7 linked regions of the Homo sapiens genome follow. The protein of the gene in region 2 purifies or fractionates together with the protein of the main gene of each other region. This does not show direct contact. Each region holds a gene or a part of one and is shown on either strand. Other genes may lie near its edges. The genes, in order: SF3A3, WDHD1, ACTR1A, CLSPN, CAPRIN1, DDX23 and NCAPG.

Region 1 (3,500 bases), on a different chromosome or scaffold from region 2:
AAAGGCCACTTTGAGTAGCCTTTCTGTTACTTGCCCTTTGAGTGTCTGCTTTGTGGGCTACTCCTGAGTATTTTCTAAAGCTCAGGCACAGAATCTGCACTATTCTGGACATTATATTGTGAGGGGACTCTATTCTCCATGACTGGCTTTATGGGAATTGGGCAACTTTGGGAGTATCATCTAACAACAGAATAGGAACTTACTGAAGAGCCTTGTACCCTGACCTCTATTTTGTGCCATACTAGTTTATCAGCTATCCACTCCTCTTTTGAACCTAATGAAAAAGTATCTTCTGTGAGTTCCTCTCCCTTTAACTCCTGTGCTTTATACCATTTTCCACTTTCAGCAGTCAGTCACTTACCCCGAGAATCTCTACATATTCATAGATCTGGGCTTCTAGAAAAGCAATGTCTTTGTTCCTTTCAGTGTCTCTGAGAAAAAGAAACAAGCTGTTTCACTCAAGGATTCTCTCATCCATTGTTTTGTTCCCTATATCTGGGAACATTTATTGCACAACTGCATTAAAAATTATAAGCACATGAGAAATACGATGCTATGAAAGCAAATGCTCTGTTCATCTCAGGACTCTCTGACAAATACTGAGGGTATTTCTCAGAATGCATGGAGGCTTCCTCTATGACCTCACTTAGAAGATGAAGGACACATCAAGACCGCTTACATTTCCATCATTATAATCTACAAAGGAAATGTGGTATATAAGAGCAAGCTCTGCAGCAGGTAGACCTAGGCCCAAATCCTGACTCTGCTACTTAGAACTATGAGAGAGTGGACACATTCCATAACTTTTCTGAGTCCTTATCTGCAAAAACTCAGGATAACAACTAATTTTCTGGGTTGTTGTGAGAATTAGAAAAAAACGTACATTAAGAAAATACTGGGCCAGGCTCGGTGGCTCATGCCTGTAATCCCAGCATTTTGGGAGGCTGAGGCTGGCGATCACTTGAGGTTGGGAGTTTGTGACCAACCTCGCCAACATGGTGAAACCCTCTCTCTACTAAAAATACAAAAATTAGCTGGGCACGGTGGCTCACATGCCTGTAATCCCACCACTGTGGGAGGCTGAGGCAGGTGGATCACCTGAGGTCAGGAGTTCATGACCAGCCTGGCCAACATGGTGAAACCCCGTCTCTACTAAAAATACAAAAACTAGCCAGGCATGGTGGCGCACTCTGGTAATCTCAGCTACTCGGGAGAGTGAGGCAGGAAAATCGCTTCAAGCAGGGCGGTGGAGGTTGCAGCGAGCCGAGATTGCGCCACTGCACTTGAGCCTGGGTGACAGAGGAAGACTCCGTCTCAAAAACAAACAAACAAAAAACACACAAAAATTAGCCAATGTGGTGTTGCACATCTGTAATCCCAGCTACTCGGGAGGCTGAGGCAGCAGAATCACTTGAACCCAGAAGGCGGAGTTTGCAGTGAGCCGAGATTGTGCCACTGCACTCCAGCCTGGGCAACAGAGCGAGATTCCATCTCAAAAAAGAAAAAAACAAACAAACAAAAAAAACAACCCTGGGTCGGGCACGGTGGCTCGCGCCTATAATCGCAGCACTTTGGGAGGCCAAGGCAGGTGGATCACTTAAGCTCAGGAGTTGCAGACCAGCCTGGCTAACATGATGAAACCCCATCTCTACTAAAAATACAAAAAATCAGCCATGTGTGGTGGTGCGTGCCTGTAGTCCCAGCTACTCAGGAGGCTGAGGCAGGAAAATCTTTTGAACCCAGGAGGTGGACGTTCCAGTGAGCTGAGATTGCACCACTGCACTCCAGCTTGGGCAACAGAGTGAGACTGTCTCAAAAAAAAAAAAAAAGAAAAAAGAAAATACCTTGTATAAGTATGTAGCTCAAGAATTAGATTCAACTTTACCAAAAATAAGCTTAGAAAAATAGGTTTTGAACCTATTTAGCCTTTTAGCCTCCATAACCTATTAAAGGTGCCATGAATATGGTTTCAAATTTAGAAACTTGATGTGCTCTCAATCAGATGAATACAGACGGTCCTTGGTTTATATTAACAGTGATAGTACTCTCTGCTATTAGCAGAGATAAAGAGCAGACTGGATCTCTGTCAACCAATAACGGAGATAAAGCAGGCTTTAAAGTCTCCACTGTGGTTAAAAATTCTGCATGGGAATAACATTTAAAAGCCACAAGCAGCAGTGCTACCCCAGCCACTCACCGCTTGGTGCCCTTTGACTTGGGATTTTTGGCAAACAAAGAGGTATCAAGTGACTCCAGGGACTTTCCTTTGGTACTGAATAGTCTCTGGGCTCGCTCTTCTAGGGTCCTAAGGAGACAGGACGGCAAAGGATTTTAGGGTTACTTTACCACACAGGCTGGCTTATTTTTGCAGTGTGGAGCAACAAAAAAAATGGAATCAGAGCTACTTAGAAGACTGTGCAAACACACAGTAAATCGATAGTTTTGATAGAAAAACTATTCCTTACCCGCCACATTTCAAGCCTAAAGCTAAGAGAGCAGATTTCAATCTGTCCAAACCCAGAGAAGCCAACTCCTATACAAAGAAGAGAAAAATTACAATATTACATTAACAGATTTTTGGGAAACCCCAAATGCAGGCCAGAGGGTGGGTGTTCCTGAGGCTGTGGCAGGACCACACATTTCACAGCCAATCTAGCAGTAAGTCTAAACTCTCCAGAGGACTGAATCTATAGTTATCTTCAGACTTAACCATACTGATAGTGTTCCATTTACTTTACTACGGCTTAATGTAGTTAGAATAATTATTTCAGTTTCCCAAGTAGTAATTTTTTTCTTTTTGCCTTGCTACTTTCTTTGTAGATGCTTGATCTCAAGAAATAGTGCCTTATCACAACACAACCATGGTATTAAAGACAGGAGAGCAGTCTTTAAAGACAGAAAAATAGACAGAGAGAACACTACTACTGCTGAAGGAAACATACCTCCCAGGAGGAGAATGCAGAGAGGTCAAGATGGGCTCCAGCATGGGTCAGGGCACTGCTTGTCTCTTTCTGGAAAGAACAATATGGTATTTATTAAGATCCAGGTTTAGGCCAGGTGTGGTGGCTCACACCTGTAATCTCAGCATTTTGGGAGGCCAAGATAGGTGAATTGCTTGAGTTCAGGAGTTAGAGACCAGGCAGGGAAACATGGTGAAATCTTGTCTCTACAAAAAATTATCTGAATTAGCTGGGCATGATGGCATGTGCCTGTGGTCCCAGCTACTCAGGAGTCTAAGGTGGGAAGATCTCTTGAGCCCACAAGGTTGAGGCTGCAGCAGTGAGGTATGATCATGCCACTGTACTTCAGCCTAGAAGCCAGATGGAGACTTTGTCTCCCAAAAAACAAAACAAAACAAAACAAAACAAAAAACAAAAAAACCCCACCAGGTTTAGGATGAAGCTAAGGTTTGTCCACATTCTCTCCCTGGAGAGTTCAGGAAAAACTCATGTTTATCCCTAGAAGTGAGAATGTAGATTCCTAACATATGATCTGATAAG
Region 2 (3,500 bases):
AGATTGGTAACAACACTAGCAGATATAATTTACAGCCAGGTGCTGTGACTCACGCTTGTAATTGCAGCACTTTGGGAGGCTGGGGAGGGAATATCACTTGAGGCCAGGATTTCAAGACCAGCCTGGGCAACAAAGCAAGATTCCATCTCTACAAAAAATAAAAAATTAGATGGGCATGGTGGCATGCATCTGTAGTCCTAGCTACCCGGAAGGCTGAGTGGGAGAACTGCTTAAGCCCAGGAGTTCAAGGTTACAGTGAGGTGTGATGATACCACTGCACTCCAGCCTAGGTGACAGAGCAAGATGCTATCTCTAAAAACAAAAATTAATTAATTAAAAACAACATATAATTAATTAAAAACAAAAACAAATAATTTATATTAGATAATAAAAAGTGTCAGTATAAAGAGGATCTATAAACTTCAGTGAACCAATATTATCAATTCATATGTTACAAAATTAAACATGATTTTAAAAAATCCATTCAACATTCAAGTCAGACCAATGAATTTTTTGATTTTATTTTGTTTTTTTCTGAGACAGGGTCTCGTTCTGTTACCCTGCCTGGAGCCCACTGTTGCAATCATGGCTCACTGCAGCCTCGACCTCTCGGGCTCAAGAGATCCTCCTACCTCAGCCTCCCAAGTAGGTGGGATTACAGGCACACGTCACCACACCTGGCTAATTTTTAAAGTTTTTTTGTAGAGAGGAGGTCTCACTATGTTGCCCTGGCTGGTCTTGAACTCCTGGCCTCAAGCAATCCTCCTGCCTGGGCCTCCCAAAGTGCTGGGATTACAGGTGAGAGCCACCATTCCCAGCCAGACCAATGAATCTTAACATAACAGAGCCGTAAGAGTTCACTGAAGTTTTCAGATTACACTTTGCAAGTAATCTTTAGGAAACGATCATCTTCTGAGTCTTGGTGCAACATCAAAGAATATCCACAATTAATTGAATGTGCTATTAAAAGATTTCTTAAAATACTTCTCCCTTTTCAAATTACATATTTATGTGAGGCCAAATTTTCTTTATACACTTCAAACAAAAACAATGTATAGCAATAGACTTAATCCAGAAAAGTAGATGAGAGAATCCAGCTATCCTCTATGATAGACATTACAAAGATTGCAATGCCACTCTTCTCACTAATTTTTTTTGTTTTTCATAAAAAAGTACTATTCATGTTTACATGAGTTTATTAATGTTATTTTTAAGTGAATAAATATTTTTAAATTTCTGAATTTTAATTTCTAATATGTAAATGACGATAGCCGTAACTCTGTATAAATAAATGCTCTCGGAAGGGTCCTCAAAATTTTTTAGAGTATAAAGGCTACTGAGACCAAAACATTTGAGGACTGCTGTTCTATAAACTCTATATGACTTTAAAAAGCACAACATAGCACTGCACATTGGCATTTTACTTGATAATGTTCAAGTGTTATTGTAGCATGTAAGTTGTTACAATAAGCACTCTATTTGAAGATTTTCAATTACAATCTCAATTTCTTCATTTTACTTGATAATGTTCAAGTGTTATTGTAGCATGTAAGTTGTTACAATAAGCACTCTATTTGAAGATTTTAAATTACAATCTCAATTTCTTTAATAGATACAATACTATTCAGGTTATCTATTACTTCTTGAGTTAGCAGTGGTACTTTGTGTCTTTCAGAAAATTCGTCTATTTCATTTAAGTTGTTAAATTTATGGGCACAAAGTTATTCATAATATTGCCATTATGCCTTTGATATTAATAGTAGCACTGCCATACAGACATATAATGTGAGTTACAGCTGTAATTTTAAATTTTCTAATATTTCTAAAGTTTAAAGAGTAAAAAGAAACAGCCATAATCTTAATAATATAGTGCATTTAAAATACATATTATCATTTCAACATGTACTCAATATAAAAAATTTCCCAAGATTTTTACATTCTTTTTTTCATATTGTCTTCAAAATCTGGTTGCACTCCATGGTGAAACCCCATCTCTACTAAAAATACAAAAATTAGCCAGGCGTGGTGGCGCATGCCTGTAATCCCAGCTACTCAGGAGGCTGAGGCACAAGAATCACTTGAATCCAGGAGGCGGAGGTTGCAGTGAGCCAAAATCACACCACCGCACTCCAGCCTGGGTGACAGAGTGAGACTCCGCCTCAAAAAAAAAAAAAAAATCCGGTTGCACTCATAACATATCTCAGTTTGAACTAACCACATTTCAAGTGCTCAACAGCTACATGTGGCTAGTGGCTACTATATATTGGATAGCACAAATCTACAGATCTATAGTGATGGCCCACCTCTCTTTCATTCTCTATGTTAGTAATTTGTGTCTTCTCTTTATTGATCAACCACGATAGATATTTATTAATTTTATTGATCTTTTCTTTTCTTTGGAGATGGAGTCTTGCTCTGTTGCCCATGCTGGCATGCAGTTGACGCGATCTCGGCTCACTGCAACCTCCACCTCCTGGGTTCAAGTGAGTTTCCTGCCTCAGTCTCCTGAGTAGCTGGGATTACAGGCACGTGCCACCACACCCAGCTAATTTTTGTATTTTTGTAGAGACAGGGTTTTACCATGTTGGCCAGGCTGGTCTTGAACTCCTGACCTCAAGTGATCTGCCCATTTCAGCCTCCCAAAGTGCTGGGATTATAGACGTGAGCCACCGTGCCCGGCCTTATTGATCTTGTCAAAGAACCAGCTTTTGGTCTCATTGACTTTCTCTATAGGTTTTCTGTTGTCAATTTTATTGAATTTTGCTCTGTATTATTTCCTTCCATTTGCTTGGGGTTTAGTTTTCTCTTTTTCTAGTCTGCCATAGCAGAAGCTTGGATTATAGATTTGAAACCTTTTTTAACAAAGTCATTTAATGCTATAAAATTTCCTCTAAGCACCACTTAGCTACATTCTACAAATTCAATAATGACTTTAATAGTGTTAATAAAAAATCTAAAATATTAATCAACAGGGTAATCACATGCACAAAGTCAAATTCTTACCAACTGAGTTTTCATCATCTTCTAGGATGTGACTTCGCTGTCTAGGACGACCTGAAGCCATCATGAGGTCTTCATCATCCTCATCATCATTTATAATCCCTTTTGAAAAAGAAGGGATCTCAACTGCATTGTCATTTAGAAAATCACCAGCATTACTCATATCATCTCCATCAAAAAGATCATTATAATCCTTTTCCACTCTGCTAGATACCTTGAACAAATTAATACAAATTATAAAGTAAAAGTGAATGATTTAGAAAAACTCAATTACTAAAAAGGTAAACTTTTAATATGCACCTATAAATTCTACCAAGCAGCAAACTCACTGAACAGATAAGAATAATTAGTAAATGTATTTATGAGAATTGTATTTATATTTACACAATAAGACCCAGTCCTTATTTCAAATGCCTTGTAGTCTGGGGATGGGATGGGAGTATAGGGACTGACATGTAAACAAATACTGTATATGCCAAAATATAAAATAAGATTTTATT
Region 3 (3,500 bases), on a different chromosome or scaffold from region 2:
CTCAGTCAGGAGCACAGGATGCTGGTGAAAGGAGCCCGGGAGACAATGAGGCCAAGGCCAGATTTCCATCTTCATTAGTCTTAGGGGAGAAGACCCTGCCTTGCTGGTTTGAGAGCCCGGGGACTTCAGTCAGCCTCACTCCAAAAAAAGGCAAGCTGTGCCTGTCAACTATCCCTGCCCAAGTAGTTTTCTCAACTTTTCAAGTTAATGCCCACTTTAAAATTTCATTCTGTCCTCAGCTGTGCCCCCCAACTCCCCTCCTTGTCCTCCAAGATTGTTATACAGGCCCCTGTGTCTACTGTGTATCTCCAACTGTCAAGAAGATTTTGTGAAACTCTAAATTCCTGCCGCAGACCAGTTCTAGTCTGTGACCTGTTAGGAACCAGGCTGCACAGCAGGAGGTGAATGGCAGGTAAGCGAGCATTATTGTCTGAGCTCCACCTCCCATCAGATCATCCAAGGCACTAGATTCTCATAGGAGTGTGAACCCTACTGTGAACTGCGCATGTGAGGGATCTAGGTTGGGCACTCCTTATGAGAATTGAATGCCTGATGATCAGAGGTGGAACAGCTTCATCCTGAAACTATCTGGCCACCCCAAACCCCCACCCCCATGGAAAAACTGTCTTCCAAGAAACTAGTCCCTGGTGCCAGAAAGGTTGGGGACCACTGCTTTAAAAAAACTGTCTGAAAACAGCCGGGCGTGGTGGCTCACACCTGTAATCCCAGCACCTTGGGAGGCTGAGGCGTGCGGATCATCTGAGGTCGGGAGTTCGAGACCAGCCTGACCAACATGGAGAAACCCCGTCTCTACTAAAAATACAAAATTAGCCGGGCTTGGTGGTGGTGCATGCCTGTAATCCCAGCTACTCAGGAAGGCTCAGGCAGGAGAATCGCTTGAACCTGGGAGGCAGAGGTTGCGGTGAGCCGAGATTGCGCCATTGCACTCTAGCCTAGGCCACAAGAGCGAAACTCCATCTCAAAAAAGCAAACAAAAAAAACCCAAAACTGAAAACATCCCACCTGCACCTGGAAATTGATACACCTAGTCTGCACCTCTCTGCATTTTCTTTCTTTCTTTTTTTTTTTTTGAGACAAGGTCTCACTCTGTCACCAGGCTGCGAGTTCAGTGGTGCGATCTTGGCTTACTGCAACCTCGATGCCCCCAGGCTCAAGCAGTCCTCCCACCTCATCATTTCAAGTAGCTGGGACTACAGGCACGCACCACTGTACCCGGCTATTTTTTTTTTTTTCATATTTTTAGTAGAGGTGGTGTTTCGCCATGCTGCCCAACTTGGTCTCAAACTCCTGAGCTCAAGAGATCCACCCAAAGTGCTGGGATTACAGGCATGACCCACAGTGACCAGCCTCCCTTTACATTTTTGAATGGAGAGTTACTTCCTTACAAGTTAATAAGCACAGGCTGCACAAGGTGGCTCACGCCTGTAATCCCAGCACTTTGAGAGGTGGAGGCGGATAGATTGCCTGAACCCAGGAGTTCGAGACCAGCCTGGGCAACATGGCAAAACCTTGTCTCTACAAAAAATACAAAATTTGCCAGGTGCCATGGCTCATGCTGTAATCCCAGCTACTTGGGAAGCTGAGGCAGGAGAATCATTTGAATCCGGGAGGCAGAGGTTGCAGTGAGCCTAGATCACGCCATTGCACTCCAGCCTGGCCAACAAGAGCAAAACCCCACCACACACACACACACAAAATTAGCCGGGCATGGTGGGGGGTGGGGCTGAGATGGGAGGATTACTTGAGCCCAGGAGGTCGAGGCTGCAGTGAGCTATTGCACTCCAGTCTGGGTGAAAGAAGTTAATGAGCACAGGCTTTGAATTCTAAAAGACATAGGTTTGAATTCCATCTCTACCCTTTGTTCACTTGGTGACCTTGGAAATACCACTTGGCTTTTCTTTTTTTTTTTTTTTTTTGGGACGGAGTCTCACTCTGTCACCCAGGCTGGAGCACAGTGGCGCAATCTCGGCTCACTGCAAGCTCCGCCTCCCGGGTTCACGCCATTCTCCTGCCTCAGCCTCCGGAGTAGCTGGGACTACAGGCGCCCGCCACCACGCCCGGAGAATTTTTTGTATTTTTAGTGGAGACAGGGTTTCACCGTGTTAGCCAGGATGGTCTCGATCTCCTGACCTCGTGATCCACCCGCCTCGGCCTCCCAAAGTGCTGGGATTACAGGTGTGAGCCACCGCGCCCGGCCACGACTTGGCTTTTCTGAACTTGTTCCCTTGTTTGTAAAATGAGATAATACTACCTATATCTCATAGGAATGGTGTTAAGATTAAATCTGAATATGCCTGAAAATCAAATGGCTCCAGCACTCTTGGCAGTGATCATCGTCCTCCTCATCATCTCTAGGGTAGGAGTTTGACACAGCTTTGCATACCCTACAGGAGTGCCCTACACACAGGATCCTCACCTCCTCTGAGAAAGTCTGCAGCTGGTCCTTAGAATAGACATATTGCCAAATGCGTTCCATGTCGTTCCAATCCTTGACGATGCCATGCTCCATGGGATAGCGGATTGAAAGCAGCCCTCGGTGCTCCTGGGAAAAGAGAACAGGACTTACGACTGCAGTCAGGCTCCACCCAGGACCCTGTTCTCCCAAGACTAAGCAGTGCAAGCTGAATCCCTTGCAAAGAAGCCTCAGCTTCCTGAGCTTCCACCCTGCTGTCCTTGCCCAGGGCTAAGGGTGGGCACTCATTCTCCAAGGCTAAATACTGTTTGCTGCAAACTGCCCTCATTCCCGAGGAGCCGGCAAAGCAGGGGCTTCTGCATTTCCATGGCCCCTCAGGTGCCTCTAGGGCAAGTGGCAGGAGGCATCTTCCTCATTGCCTGGTTCCAGGACACAATCTCCTGGCTCCCACCTCTGGGCCTCAGCACTTGAAGCCAAGGATGGCAACAGCGATTCTGCTATCTGCTTACAAGAGGCTGCATGAGGGCTCTGACAAAGCTGTGTGAATTAACTCATCCCTAGGGTACCCCAGCCAGGATCTCCCCACTGAATATTTTTTGTGAAAAAAATAATAAACACAGTAAATTTGATCACTGACAAGGCAGTGACAGGATGCAGAAGACAACAGCCCTGTTTCCTAGACTGGTCTCAGTGTGTCCCAAAGTGAGGTCCCAGGTATTTTCTTCTCCAAGACCACAGGCTGTTCCTGGGAAAAATAAACCACCTAAGCCTAGGATGAGAGAATCAAAAAGGAGATTTTCAGAGAAAGTTGCCCCTTTTACTTATGGGTATGTCCAAATGTTGGGACATGTTCCATGTGGTGAATAATGAAGGTCCTCTGCTGGCTTAAGGCTTGTTCTGTAGGCCTGGGAATTACCTCAGCTTTGGGGCCAATGAAGATGTCGCCTTCAAGGGCTCCTGCCATGACACGAACGTGCTTGGGTCGGCCCACACTAGAAAAGACAGTGAGGAGGACCATCATTTTTCATTTCATGACAGAACACAGGAAGGATGTATAGATGTACAT
Region 4 (3,500 bases), on a different chromosome or scaffold from region 2:
TCTGTTGCCCAGGCTGGAGTGCAGTGGCACAATCTCGGCTCACTGCAACCTCCACCTCCGGGGTTCAAGCAGTTCTCCTGTCTCAGCCTCCCAAGTAGCTGCGATTACAGGCACGGGCCACCATGCCCAGATAATTTTTTGTATTTTAGTAGAGACGGGGTTTCACCGTGCTGCCCAGGCTGGTGGCGAACTCCTGAGCTCAGGAAATCCCCCGCCTTGGCCTCCCAAAGTGCTGGGATTACAGGCGTGAGCCACTGCGCCCGGCCTAAAGTAGTCTTAAGTTGATACTTTACCACTCTAAGAAAGTAAGAGTTCTAAATATCAGGGCACTAAGCAGTGAATTCAGTTTATACACAGATTCCATCACAGCCCTGTTTTCTGTGAACTTTTCACCTGAGGGTAAGGGGCTTCTTTTCTTTCTTTCTTTTTTTCTATTTTTATGCAGGGTCTCTGCCACCCAGGCTGGAGTGCACTGGTGTGATCTCAGCTCACTGCAACCTTCATCTCCCAGGCTCAAGAGATCCTCCCACCTCAGCCTCCCAAGTAGCTAGGACCACAGGCACGTGCCACCATGCCTGGCTAATTTTTTTTTTTTTTTTCGTAGAGATGGGGATTTGCCATGTTGCCCAGGCTGGTCTCAAACTTCTGAGCTCAAGCGATCCATCCAACTTAGCCTCCCAAAGTTCTAGGATTACAGGCATGAGCCACCCCACCCGCCCAGGGAATTCTTTTCAAGGGCACTGATACTTGGGTGTGGTAAGCTTGATACTCTCGGTTGGATATTTACCCTGAGAAGTGAATTTTCCTGAACAAAGGTTCAGAAGTTCCTCCATGTTCTCTTTCTTGTCACTCTTCCTGGGTAGATGTTTTTCAGCCTGAGATGTGAACTTTCCAGTACACAAATCCAACAGCTCATCCATGTTGGCATCCATGGCATTCTCATCCATACTGGCCAATGGCAATCGAGGCTTCAAAGCTTGGTACTGATTCCTGTGGTTTCTAACATTTAAGAACCTAAGAACCAATGAGCACAACGAATAGTGTAAAAAATTCCTCAGAGAGGGCCGGGTGCGGTAGCTCACGCCTGTAATCCCAGCACTTCGGGAGGCCGAGGCGGGCGGATCACGAGGTCAGGAGATCAAGACCATCCTGGCTAACATGGTGAAACCCCGTCTCTACTAAAAATACAAAAAATTAGCCGGGCGTGGTGGTGGGCGCCTGTAGTCCCAGCTATTCGGGAGGCTGAGGCAGGAGAAGGGCGTGAACCCAGGAGGTGGAGCTTGCAGTGAGCCGAGATCGCGCCACTGCACTCCAGCCTGGGCGACAGAGCAAGACTCTGCCTCAAAAAAAAAAATAAAAAAAAATTCCTCAGAGAAATGGCAAAGTAGGGGGTGAAAAACCTCTGAATTCATTTCCTACACCAGTTAAAAGCTGAATCTCAAACCAGAAAGCAAAAGATTCAAACTTTAGGCTTGTGTTAATCTAAAGAGGGAGGGAAAAGTTTTGTGAAAGAATAAAATGTTACTCAGAAGGTAAAGTGTAAAGGATAACTTTTAGCTTCAGATGATGCTAGAGCAGGGCTTGGCATTATGTCCTGTAATGTGCCACCAGTCTGTGAATTCTCAACCTTACCCAACAATAATAACATAGCAGGATGGATACAGGGAAATTTGATGACCTTACAATACAAGATCTATGCATTTCAAATAAGACAGAAATTGAAGGACCAGAATGTTAGCAAGAGCTATTTATGTTTATTTTCTGGACAGACTTTGTTCAAACTTATAGAATGTAATACTAATGGTCTGTACACCTTCTCTTTCTCAGAAGAGAAAGCACAGATGGAGTGACAGAAGCTCACTTATTTTTAAACAAAATTAAGCAGTACCCAGCACCATTCCCGCCCACAGAAACACAAAACTACCTACCCATCTGCATCCAACAGTTGGCTCTGAGTGTCATCTTCTAAACAGAACTGGAAGTCTCCTGCTCCTAGGAAAAGTGTCTTAGGCTCTGGGGAGGCGTTATACAGATCCTGGGAATCCTCTATGGGAAGTGAAGGCTCAGACAGTTTCCCTGAACTCTGGCACACAAACAAAAACAAACAATAACAAAACATTTTACAAATGTCAGTCATTGTCATGACAACCACAAAAGTTGCTATTTGCAATATTTAAGCTACTCTCAGGAAATTGTAGTTGAGGGGGACAATACACAGCCATGAGAAGCATAAAGAAAAATACCTCCAAGAAAGTAAGAATACTGGATGAAGCTTGTTTTTAATACACAAAGGGGGTGGATTTTTTAAACTGAACACACATAAGCTCAGTACCAACGTGGTGGGAGTTGGTTGGCTGGGACAAACTTTATTTAGCAATGTGGGAAGCAAAGAGAGGAGGAGATTAGAAAAACCATTACCATCTTACCTTAGAAGCTGAGCTGACCAAACTGGCTCGAAATAGCCCAGGGGAAGGAGATCTGAATCCTCCTGCTGTAGGGAAAAAACTGGTCCCACGGCCTGTTTGTCTGTTGCAAGGCTGATAGGATGGAATCGTGGAGCCAATCAGCTCAAAGCTGCTATTGTGGCTGCTCTCCTTTGTTAGCAATGAACATGAATCATCCTCATCTAAAGAAAGAGAAACACCTTTTAAGCACATGATTACAGAAATAAGGTGGATTTGTTTAGGAAAAAGAGTTGAGGATGAAACTGTCAGATAAAATTCATAGGCAAACCCCTCAAGTTATATGTTCCAAAACATTAAGTTAAAGGTAAATTACAGTACTAAGATAGCATTATATAATCAGGGCTTATTACTCTGAGCTAAGTGACACTTGAAAGTTCTTTTTTTTTTTTTTTTTTTTTTTTTGAGACAGTCTCGCTCTGTCACCCCAGCTGGAGTGTAGTGGCGTGAATTCGGCTCACTGCAACCTCCGCCTCCCAGGTTCAAGCGATTCTCCTGCCTCACCCTCCCAAGTAGCTGGGACTACAGGCGCGTGCCACCACACCTGGCTAATTTTTTATATTTTTAGTAGAGACAGGGTTTCACCATGTTAGCCAGGCTGGTCTCGATCTCCTGACCTCATGATCCGCCTGCCTCAGCCTCCCAAAGTGCTGGGATTACAGGCGTGAGTCACTGCGCCTGGCCGAAAGTTCTCTTCTTTCTCTTATCCTTCCTAATGCCTATGATCACACTCTTCATTGTCCAATCAATTATACGTCTTCCTTTGATCTACATACAGAAACATTTCATTGCTCACTCAATCAACACACATTCACTAAGGACATTATGTACCATGGTCTACTATAAATAAACTGCAAAAAATAGACCAAGAAAAATATTCTAATTCATAAACCCTTTTCATAGCTACATATGAAACTGGGAAGTGACCAGATTTAAAAACATGGAAACTTACCGTACTGCAGTCCTTAAATATCAAAGCTGAGGGACAAAAGAAATGTTAAGTTCTGCACAAGAATCACTACTTACCCAGTTTGCTAG
Region 5 (3,500 bases), on a different chromosome or scaffold from region 2:
CAGGAGGCAGAGGTTGCAGTGAGCTGAGATTGCACCACTGCACTCCAGTCCTGGGCGACAGAGCAAGATTCTGTTTCAAAAAAAACTGCGAGAATTTTGGAAATCACCCATTCCAACCTAAGTCATTCCATATAAACATCTCAATTTTGTCTTCTATAAAATGAACTGGACTAAATTCTAAGGTGGTTTAAGCTCTAAAAAAAAACTCTTAGGCCGGACATGGTGGCTCATGCCTATAATCCCAACACTTTGGAGGCTGAAGTGGGTGGATCACTTCAGGTCAGGCGTTTTGAGACCAGCCTGGCCAACATGGTGAAATCCCATCTCTACTAAAAATATAAAAAATTAGCCGGGCGTGGTGGCGGGCGCCTGTAATCCCAGCTACTCAGGAGGCTAAGGCAGGAGAATAGCTTGAACCTGGGAGGGGGAGGTTGTAGTGAGCCGAGGTCATGCCATTACACTCCAGCCTGGGCAACGAGAGCAAAACTGTCTCAAATAATGATAATAAATAAAAATTAAAAATCCTCTAAATTTTATAACAGTGTAAGATTATAGCTATGACAAAATTGCTATAAGTTTAACCTTTTGCAAAAGTATTGCAAAAATTAACACTTTTACTAAAGGAAAAGTGTTAGTTTTTCTAAAAGATGAAACAGTACTAGTCTTCATCTAGCCCTAAATGTAAACTAGGAAATTAATTACATAAAATTTTGGCAAATTGTATGCTTAATCTGTAAGTCACACAAAATGCATTCTCAAATATCTGCCACATGGGTAGTATCCTAGAGTACACTAATTTGGCCACGTTAAAACAATACATTCTCAATGTAATACTTAGGCTTCGACTCTCACCCTAGAAAAAGGTACCCATTATCACTTGGGGGAATTCACAGCTTTAAATACTTCCCAGTGCTACACATACAAACACACACAGTCAAGCAAAGGGAAACAAATTAAGCATTACAGCTTTTTTCTATGACAAGGTGAATGCAAAATAATCTTGCCCTCTGCATTGCAGAAGAATAGTTCTTGCAACCCATGGAAAAGCAAACACATCAAGAGATCTTAAATGTCAAAGAAGGCTTCAGGTAATAGCCTCAAGGAAAGATTTTACTTATAAAATAGTTAAGAATGTTTTTATTTTAAAACACTGAACACATAAGTTCTGCACAACAGCTGCAATGAAAATTCTAAGCACAGACACACTGCAACGTTCTAGAAAGAAATGTTACCCTCACAACAACAGCATTCTTTTTAAAGAATACTACTAACTGCAAAGATGAAGTGCAGAAAGCCTTCAGGAAAAAGTATTAAAAACACTACACTTCTGGCTATCAGTTTTGGTCACTTAGTGGTTAAAAAGCTGTCAGGCTATTTTTGCATTTTACGCAAGTGATCATTAGTTAATCTTTCACCTACCAAAGTCACTAGAGTCTAAACCTATTATATTCACAAAGAATATAACAATTTTAAATGTCATCTATTAAAACATCCTTTATTCTATATCACAACTGATTACATCTAATAATATCAAATGAGGTCTCTCTTCAGTTAAAATTAAGACTTGGTTTTGAAATATCTTGCATAGCCTAGGGCCCAGTTCAGCACCAATGAACTGATAAAGAAAACTAGGCAGTTAATCATTCAATTCAATATTACCTGTAAGATTTGCAAATGGATTTTACACTTGATTATCACAGCTGTATTTCTTCTCTTTGCTAAACATTCATGTACTCTTTATAAGCCTGAATTTAAAAACCCACCAAGCCTTTTAGTTGCATTACATAACACGATCATATTTCATCAACATTAAGAGCATGCATTCTCAATGAGCAGATGCTTAGCTTTTTCTTTAATGGCTCAAATTATTAGGAAATAAACAACTTTGTTTTTTAAAGTACAATAAAATTATTTCAATTCTCTGTTTTAATTTAAGCAATACTACATATCCATAGTCATTTTTGCCAGGATATTTGATTTTAAAATCCATAAAAAAAGCATTTTGGTCCAGAAGGCTCCGATAAGAATAGGTCAAGATTGAAATAAAGCTCAAATGTAAGTTGCTAAATGGACTGAAGTCAAAACAAATCTAATTGTAAATAGTACCTCACTTTACTCCACAAGGGTTTCTAAAGAGGAATTCAAAACTGATTTGTAAAGCAATCCTATTTTAGTGCATTAGAAATGCTCACTTATACTTAAAAACAGTTAAGTCTTCTCACAAGTAAATCATCTAAATATAAAAAGGATTTAAACTAAAAACCAGATGTGCTTAAATTTAGGGCAAATCCAAATGCCCTGGGTTTTTCAAAGGGCAAAAGATATAGTTTTAATAGCAATTAAGTCAACATCAATACTGCCAACTTAACTACTTAACATGTAGGTAGAGTTCAGTCTGTGGCTTATCAAAGTCTCAAGACTTAACTGTAACTTGACCTTTTTGCTGCTATCTACCACTTAAAACACTGAGAAGACAGAAAAAAAAGTTACTTTGTGCAGTTTGTTGAATCTCCATTATTAACACGGCAATCTTTCAGTATGTATTAGCCTAGTTAATAACCTATGTAATAATTACATTATTTTCTCCTTTATGACTTTAGGGGAGGCCCGGCATGGTGGCTCACACCTGTAATCCCAGCACTCTGGGAGGCCGAGGCGGCTGGATCACCTGAGGTCAGGAGTTCTAGACCAACCTGACCAACAAGGTAAAACCTGTCTCTACTAAAAATACAAAAATTAGTTGGGCGTGGTGGCAGGTGCCTGTAACCCCAGCTACTCTGGGCGGGGGGCCGAGGCAGGAGAATCGCTTGAACCCAGGAGGCGGAGGTTGCAGTGAACCGAGATCACATCGTCGCACTCCAGCCTGGCGGACAAGAGCGAGACTTCTCAAAGAAAAAAAAATTGCCTGGGGTGGTGGCGCACACTTGTAATCACAGCTACTTAGGAGGCTGAAGCGGGAGGATCACTTGAACCCGGGAGGTGGAGGTTGCAGGAAGCCAAGATCATCCTACCGCACTCCAGCCTGGGCACTCCAGCCTGGGCAACAGAGATTCATCTCAAAAAATAAAAATAAAATAACAAAATCACTTGAGGGTAGGGTATGACAGAGTATAGTAATTCACATACACCTATACACATTTAATGACCAGTCATGGTTCAAGTCCTCAGGAGGGGCTTATAAACTAGATTTATATTTTTTTTTCAGAAGTACTTGAACACTAGATTCTAACAGCCACCTCACAACTAAATTGGCTGCCAATCAGCACCTACCTTTATATTAACTTCTCTGAGGAGTTATCTTTCAGTCATTAATGTCTCTACACTTTATATCACTAATCATTAATGTTCATAATTAGTATTAACACATTATTAATGTTCACAATCATTAATATTTTATGTTCAATTACTGTCCTAGAAAAAAACATTTCCAAGAAATTCTAAAGAATCAAAAACTCAAGTAGCAGCCAGATCAGCAGGCTTGCTTACTGCATTAAAATTTT
Region 6 (3,500 bases), on a different chromosome or scaffold from region 2:
CCTGGGAGGCAACGGTTGCTGTAAGCCAAGATCACACCACTGCACTCCAGCCTAGACAATAGAGCGAGACTCCATCTCAAAAAATAAATAAATAAATAAATAATAAATACATAAAAATCAGAGATTCAGCCAGGTGCAGTGGTTCACGCCTGTAATCCCAGCACTTTGGGAGGCCAAGGCAGGCAGATCAGTTGAGATCGGGAGTTTGAGACCAGCCTGGCCAACATGGTGAAACCTCATCTCTACTAAAAATGTAAAAATTAAGGACAGGCACACTGGCTCACGCCTGTAATTCCAACACTTTGGGAGGCTGAGGCAGGCAGATCACTTGAGGTCAGGAGTTAGAGACCAGCCTGACCAACATTGAGACCCCGTCTCTACTAAAAATACAAAAAAATTAGCCGGGCATGGTGACGGGCACCTATAATCCCAGCTACTTGGGAGGCTGAGGGAGGAGAATCACTTGAACCTGGGAGGAGGAGGTTGCAGTGAGCCGAGATTGCGCCATTGCACTCCAGCCTGGGCAACAAGAGCGAAACTCCGTCTCAAAAAACAAAACAAAACAAAAAACCAAAAATTAGCTAGAAGTGGTGGCACACGCCTGTAATCCCCAGCTACTCAGGAGGATGAAGCAGGAGAATCACCTGAACCTGGGAGGCAAAAGTTGTAGTGAGCTGAGATCGTGCCACTGCACTCCAGCCTGGGTGACAGAGTGAGACTCTGCCTCAAAAAAATAAATAAAATAAATCAGAGACTCCAGGATAGCAAAGTTCTCCAGGTCTTTGCCAGCAACATATACTTCTTCGATATCATGATCCAATTATTCCCTAATATCCAACAAAGAATAAAGAAGAAAGCTTCTGATTATAGACGTAAAACAAAAATCAAACATTCATTTGCCACTTTCACCTTTCCTACCCAGACAAACCCACTCCAGCTGGTGCTAGCTGACCTCACCTGTCAATTTTGGGAAGTGTGGTGATCCAGACCAGCAGAGGGATGAGGAAGGCTGCTGTCTTGCCACTGCCAGTCTCAGCCACACCAATGATGTCACGATTCTGTAGCCCAATGGGAATTGCCTGACGCTGTATAGGTGTTGGTTCCTGCAGTGACCCCAAGAAAGAGTAATAGGTACAGGGAGAGTTATACCACCTGGGCAACCACTGATAGTAGTAAGCACATCTGCTAGCACAATGGAAGGATGCCAAGTACAGTTCACAGAAATAGGGACCCCAAGAAGAAACCTAATCACTAAAAGCCAACACTTCTACCAGAAAGTGACAGAAAAGGTCACATTGGTGCCCACTAGCAGCGATGGCTCCAAATAGTCAAGGAACAAAGTTCTCTATTCCCAAACTAGTGTAGGAACATGTCAGATCTCTTGGGCCAATCTATCCCTCCTTACCTTGTAGCCACACTTATCAATGACCTCCAAGATGTGTGGGGGCAGAGAAGAGTCTTTCCAGGATCGGATGGGATTGGGGATCTTGCCACCTTTGGTGGTGATGCTGTAGTCCTCACGGAAGATCCGCCAGTCCCTGTCCGTCATCTCATCTAACTTTTTCTGAGACCAATGACGATCATCCCAGCGCTGCTTGGCTTCCTTCTTACGAAGTTTGCGGAGTCTTGCCCTGGAGCAGGGTGTGAGGAGTAAGTAGAATCAGTGCCCTCCAACTCCTTTCTGTAGAGCCTCTGGGCTCTGTCCAGCCACCCTAGCCTTGATCACTCACTCCTCCTGCTCCTTTTCTTCCAGGGTTCGCCTCTTCTCCATTAGGTCTCCATAGAAACGTGACTGCTCTCGCTTCTGCTGCTTGAGGTCAATGCCTGCAATGAAGCCTCGCCCTAACAACTGCACCTGGTGCCGTTCTTTGTACCTGGGATTGAGATAGAGGAAAAGAAAAAAGAAGGAGCTGTTAACGGCAGTAGGAAGGAAGGGCAGACTACTAGTATGAAACAGTTCTTCCCAGACAGGGTCTTTCTTCCACCAGAGGGCTGGCTGACTACCAGTCTACCAATTTTCCATCCCAGCTTATCTTACTTCCTCCACCTCCGTAGTCATCAGCTCTCTAGGACTGCCTAGTGGAAAAGACCTAGAACTCAGGCCTGAAGCCACTCACAGGGGGTTGTAGTCAATGGATGTGTCCTCAGATGCATCCCACTCAAAAACAAATTTCCGGTCATTGAGATGTCTCGTTCGGCGCCGCTTTTTGATGCCACCCAGGTAACGCTCCTACCCAGGGACAGAACACAAAGCACATGAGCTTTGAGGCCCAATTCTCACATGCAGAGATCACAATGGCCAAATAACTAAACCTCATTTTTGTGTGGGAGAGAAGTGAAGATGGAGCCAAGGCCTGCACCTTAATGGCATGCAGTTCCTTGCTCTTATCCTTCTCTTCCCGGATCTTCTGCCGCCCTTCCTCATCCTCATTTCCATTGGTCTCCCGTTCCATCCTCTCCCTGCGTTCCCGACGTTCCCGTTCCTGAGGATCTTCTGCAGACCAAAGAAAGCAAAGCTGCAGAAGAGCTCATGGAAGAAAAGAGGAGAGGGAATGGAGGGAATCCAGACGAGGAACCCCAAATGAAGAAAAAAAGGGGTAGACTTATGATATGGGGTAAATGGAGATCTAACAGAAAAATGTTTTCTCATAAACTCCCACCATCCTTCCCCTTTCCAAACTCCAGAGTGAACAGGTTTCTATCTCTCCTAAGAGACACTGTATCTCATCCCACTCTTTCCTCTTCCATCTAGGGGCTACACAGGGTAGAATAACAAACCCAACATCTTCCTGCCCAAGTCTTGGAACTGTTTCCTTTTCTTCCTCTCTTCTTCAAGCATCCTCTGCCGCTCTTCCACCTCCTGCTGCCGTCGCTTTAGAGCTTCAGCCTCTCGTTCTGCTTTAGAGAGGAACTTGGGCTACAAAAGAGATTGGAACTGTCAACAAAGGATCTGGGAGCAGGGTACAATCACATCACTGATGGGGAGATGGCAGGGAACCCAAAAGTATTTGCTCAGGCATTAAGCCTGTTGAGGAAAACACAAATAGGCCTTGGACTCGGTTATGGACTGAACTATGTCCCCTACAGAATTCATATGTTTTTTCAGGCTGGACGTGGTGGCACATGCCTGTAATCCCAGTGTTTTATGAGACCTAGATGGGAGGACCGCTTGAGGCCATGAGTTCAAGACCAGCCTGGGCAACATAGCAGACCTTGTTTCTACAAAAATAAAAAAACTCAGCCAGACATGATGGCATGTGCATATAGTCCCAGCTACTCAGGAGGCTGAGGCAGGAAAATCATATGAGCCCAGGAGTTTGAGGTTACAGTGAGCTGTGATTGCACCACTGTACTTTAGCCTGGGCAAACGAGCAAGACCTTACCTTTAAAAAAAAAAAAAAAATGTGGCCGAGTGCGGTGGCTTGTGCCTGTAATCCTAGCACTTTGGGAGGCCGAGATGGGCGGATCACGAGGTCAGGAGTTCAAGACAAGCCTGGCCA
Region 7 (3,500 bases), on a different chromosome or scaffold from region 2:
AAACACAAAAATTAGTGTGGTGGTGCACACCTGTGGTCCCAGCTACTTGGGAGGCCGAGGCACGAGAATGGCTTGAACACGGGAGGTGGAGGTTGCAGTGAGCTGAGATCATGCCACTGCACTCCAGCCTGGGCAACAGAGGGAGACGTTGTCTCAAAAAAAAAAAAAAAAAAGTCTAATCTTCATCTTGCCTAATTATCACCTCAAAAAAAAAAAAACCTGACAACCTCGTTTATCATCTATGAGCTAGCCCAGCTATTTTCTAAGTTTCAGATTCATATATATAACTGCTAAAAGACATTTCCTCTTGATGTTCCACAGTTTCCTCAAACTCAACATGTCCAAAAGGGAACTCATCATTACACAAATCTCTCCTCTTCCTTGTTCTCTATCTTCATACTGTCATCACCATCTACCCAGTTGTCTAAACCAAAAGACTTAAGATACATTCCTGACTCCCTTTTCTCCGTTACTAATTTCTAAATACCTCTCAAGTTCATCACTACTTTCCAAATCCACTGTCATTATCTTGTTCAGACTACCATCATCTGTAAGTCTCCCAACCCTACTGTAAGTCTCCCAACTATTATGCCTGTCTAAGCTTTTACTACTCTCCAATCCATTTCCTAAACAACAGTGATCTGAGACATAAGACTTACCTAACCACTTAAAATACTAGTGGTTCACCACAATCCTTAGAATACAAAATTTTTAATATTGCTTACGCAAAGCCTTACATGACCTAGCCCTTAATTTTTCCCCAGATTTTTCTCCTGCTTCTCCCCATCAATTCTCTAGTCACATGGACCTGAAGTTTTAAAACATAATAGGCATTCTTTAACTTCTGGACCATCACAGATGTTGCTCCATCTGTCTACAACATTCCTTCCATAATTCATTGAGGAGAGACAGCACAGAGTGAGTTAAAAGCACAAGTCTAGAGCCACTTCTTGGGTTTAAATCCTGCCTCCACCATTTACTATCTGTGTGATTTTGGGCAAGTTACTTGCCCTTTGTAAAATGAAGATAATAATAGTACCAACCTCATAGGCCTATAGGAAGAAAAGAATGAATTCACATTTGTGAAGTAATTAATGCTGTGACTACCACAGAAAAAGTATCCTCTGACTGTTAGATTATATTGTTATTTTTATTCTAATCTCAGGATAAAACATGTCTTCCTCTGGGGAAGCCAACAATACTCTACCAGCACTAGAAACCTCTCCATAAAACCTCTATACTTCCCTGACCATAGCATTTATTATGCTCTGTTGTAGTTGCATTTTAACAGATTTGTAGCCCTCGAACAGGACAAATAGACACATAAATGGTCAAAGCAAGTCAAGTTAAACAGACGATATTAACCATGATAGACTACTTTTGCTAATTTTATAATTTTGACCTAAAGTTTGTCATTTTTCAGATGATATTTTCAGTTTTTGCTTTAAATTTGCTTTCCAAATTTAATAGCCTATAATGGCCCACAGACTTCGTCAAATAAAAGAAGCCACCAGCTATCAAAATAAAATTCAGGCATACACTCTGGGAAGGTGGGTGTTGGAGTTGGGATGTCTATGGCTAAAGAGATCAGAAACATAACTCATGAAACTCTCCTATATAAAAGAGTCTCCTATTTAGCATTCTTTTTATGAGAATAATCAGCACATCCCAAAAGTACAACAATAAATGATGTTCATTACAAAAGGCAAGATCCCAAAAGAAATTAAAGTTAATATCAAATATTAATTGATACCTATCTTATGTTTACATATTTATCATTTGTTGTAAGACAGAATGGTATCGATACCATTAACAAAAAATTTCTTTCAGAAGGAAAGACATACTCCATTTAAGAGAGTACTTTAACAAACTAATTTTTTAAAAAACGAACTACTGAAAAGCAAGCTTTAAATGTTACTAGACATATTTCAGTATTTCATTAAAAATAACAAAGCTGCGTAGCTTTTTCTAAAAACACAAAAGTAATTTAGCTTTAAAAAAATGCACGTTACCATAGAAATTATTTTGCTAGCAATAAAAAAGAAAGGTCATTGATCCTCCACAAATAAGAGGAAAATGGATGTATTTTCCTTTTTTAAACCATTCAAGACAAAAAACAGAAAACTCAGATGTGAACCACTGGAAAGCTAGCTTCCCTGGTAAGAAAGACTTCGGATTCTAGAGATTAGCATGACAAGGAAGCAAATAAAGTCCTACCTCCAATAATTAAAGTTAATTAAGGCCTTTCAAAGTCCAAAAATAGAAACAGGGAAAAACTTTTTTCATTTTAATTCATGTCACTATTACAAAGTGCTCAAAGTAAATATATTTTGGCAATTCTAGAAGTTAGAGAAAATAAGATTTAGTTGAGATGATTAATAACACCTGAGATTTAGTATGAAAAAAGTTACCTGTACCTTCTCTATGTGGACTTCTTTAATTTCAAGTTGCTCTGTCTCTTTCAAAAGGTTTATTCTGGCATCTTCTAATGCTTTTATTTCTTCTTTTAATTCTGATGCCCGATTAAAATCCTGTAAGGTAATGCAATTTTCCAAAGCTTCTTTGGCTTCGATAAGCTTAACTTTTATTTCAGCCATCTAAGGGAAGATATAAATTGTTTCAACACTGAACAAAAACTGTTAATATGAATATCTGTAGCAACTCAGGAGTATTATTTAATATCTCAACTGCCCAGAATTTAATGAGTCAGGCATATGCAAACTTGTAGTTTTCCTGACACAGAGATCTGCATATCTCTGAGACTGACATATGTGGTAACATTTTAAATATTCTTATAGTTTAACAATTAAACAATAATTTGATTATGTGAGAAACATTTCAGAACTGCACAGCAAGAGGAAAGAATAGACTTGCCCAGCTACATTACACTCAAGCACTTCTTTCATTTAAAAGAGACTTACCTTGAGTTCTTTCTTTCTTACATCAGCTGGATCGTTATTAACACCAACAGTAACAATGGGCGCCCGAATCTCTGAGATAATTTCTGTAACCTGTAAGTTCAGAGTACATGCTTTAATATATGTTTGATATATCAGCAAATAGTATCAAAATTCTATATAAAACTCCAAGTAGTATCCACCATATATTGAATAATGGAGCAAAAACATACTGGTAGAAATAGCACACATTCTGTTTGCTAGACAATTTTAGAAAAAAACAAAACAAAACAATATATCTGACTACAAAATGAAATTATTTGAATGGAAGGGAAATAGGCACACAGACAGTGAAAGTAAATTATCCCTCATATAATGTTTGAAAAACAGAAATATGAATTATGGTGCTTAAGATGAGACACTTAAATTCTCTGCCTAAAATCCTCAACCCTTCTCTTGTTCAGCTCTGTAGGAGTTAAACACAGAAAAATGGAATATCCTTTTATTCTTCCTTTGGGTAGACAATGCATAAATAATAATAGCATAAGGAAGGACTTTCCTTTCAGAACCACTTGTATATTGGAATTGGCTGATCAGGAAAAG

What was found.
Region 1: the proteins of WDHD1 (region 2) and SF3A3 fractionate together in Homo sapiens (co-fractionation; one large-scale study listed by BioGRID). This does not show direct contact.
Region 3: the proteins of WDHD1 (region 2) and ACTR1A fractionate together in Homo sapiens (co-fractionation; one large-scale study listed by BioGRID). This does not show direct contact.
Region 4: the proteins of WDHD1 (region 2) and CLSPN purify together in Homo sapiens (affinity purification with western blotting; one study listed by BioGRID). This does not show direct contact.
Region 5: the proteins of WDHD1 (region 2) and CAPRIN1 fractionate together in Homo sapiens (co-fractionation; one large-scale study listed by BioGRID). This does not show direct contact.
Region 6: the proteins of WDHD1 (region 2) and DDX23 fractionate together in Homo sapiens (co-fractionation; one large-scale study listed by BioGRID). This does not show direct contact.
Region 7: the proteins of WDHD1 (region 2) and NCAPG fractionate together in Homo sapiens (co-fractionation; one large-scale study listed by BioGRID). This does not show direct contact.

What each region holds. Positions count from the first base shown.
Region 1 is NC_000001.11:37,976,523-37,980,022, forward strand, and holds part of SF3A3 (splicing factor 3A subunit 3), read right to left. Parts: intron 3,012-3,500; coding exon 2,943-3,011; intron 2,534-2,942; coding exon 2,466-2,533; intron 2,306-2,465; coding exon 2,198-2,305; intron 432-2,197; coding exon 362-431; intron 1-361. UniProt on the Homo sapiens protein: Component of the 17S U2 SnRNP complex of the spliceosome, a large ribonucleoprotein complex that removes introns from transcribed pre-mRNAs.
Region 2 is NC_000014.9:54,992,600-54,996,099, forward strand, and holds part of WDHD1 (WD repeat and HMG-box DNA-binding protein 1), read right to left. Parts: intron 3,215-3,500; coding exon 3,004-3,214; intron 1-3,003. UniProt on the Homo sapiens protein: Core replisome component that acts as a replication initiation factor. Binds directly to the CMG complex and functions as a hub to recruit additional proteins to the replication fork.
Region 3 is NC_000010.11:102,485,713-102,489,212, forward strand, and holds part of ACTR1A (alpha-centractin), read right to left. Parts: intron 3,427-3,500; coding exon 3,351-3,426; intron 2,564-3,350; coding exon 2,438-2,563; intron 22-2,437; coding exon 1-21. UniProt on the Homo sapiens protein: Part of the ACTR1A/ACTB filament around which the dynactin complex is built. The dynactin multiprotein complex activates the molecular motor dynein for ultra-processive transport along microtubules.
Region 4 is NC_000001.11:35,745,979-35,749,478, forward strand, and holds part of CLSPN (claspin), read right to left. Parts: coding exon 3,489-3,500; intron 2,627-3,488; coding exon 2,427-2,626; intron 2,084-2,426; coding exon 1,929-2,083; intron 1,015-1,928; coding exon 788-1,014; intron 1-787.
Region 5 is NC_000011.10:34,054,731-34,058,230, reverse strand, and holds part of CAPRIN1 (caprin-1), read right to left. Parts: intron 1-3,500. UniProt on the Homo sapiens protein: mRNA-binding protein that acts as a regulator of mRNAs transport, translation and/or stability, and which is involved in neurogenesis, synaptic plasticity in neurons and cell proliferation and migration in multiple cell types.
Region 6 is NC_000012.12:48,835,164-48,838,663, forward strand, and holds part of DDX23 (probable ATP-dependent RNA helicase DDX23), read right to left. Parts: intron 2,918-3,500; coding exon 2,779-2,917; intron 2,495-2,778; coding exon 2,361-2,494; intron 2,231-2,360; coding exon 2,118-2,230; intron 1,875-2,117; coding exon 1,731-1,874; intron 1,632-1,730; coding exon 1,406-1,631; intron 1,104-1,405; coding exon 958-1,103; intron 1-957. UniProt on the Homo sapiens protein: Involved in pre-mRNA splicing and its phosphorylated form (by SRPK2) is required for spliceosomal B complex formation.
Region 7 is NC_000004.12:17,824,479-17,827,978, reverse strand, and holds part of NCAPG (condensin complex subunit 3), read right to left. Parts: intron 3,012-3,500; coding exon 2,922-3,011; intron 2,598-2,921; coding exon 2,418-2,597; coding exon of another isoform or gene 2,412-2,417; intron 1-2,411. UniProt on the Homo sapiens protein: Regulatory subunit of the condensin complex, a complex required for conversion of interphase chromatin into mitotic-like condense chromosomes.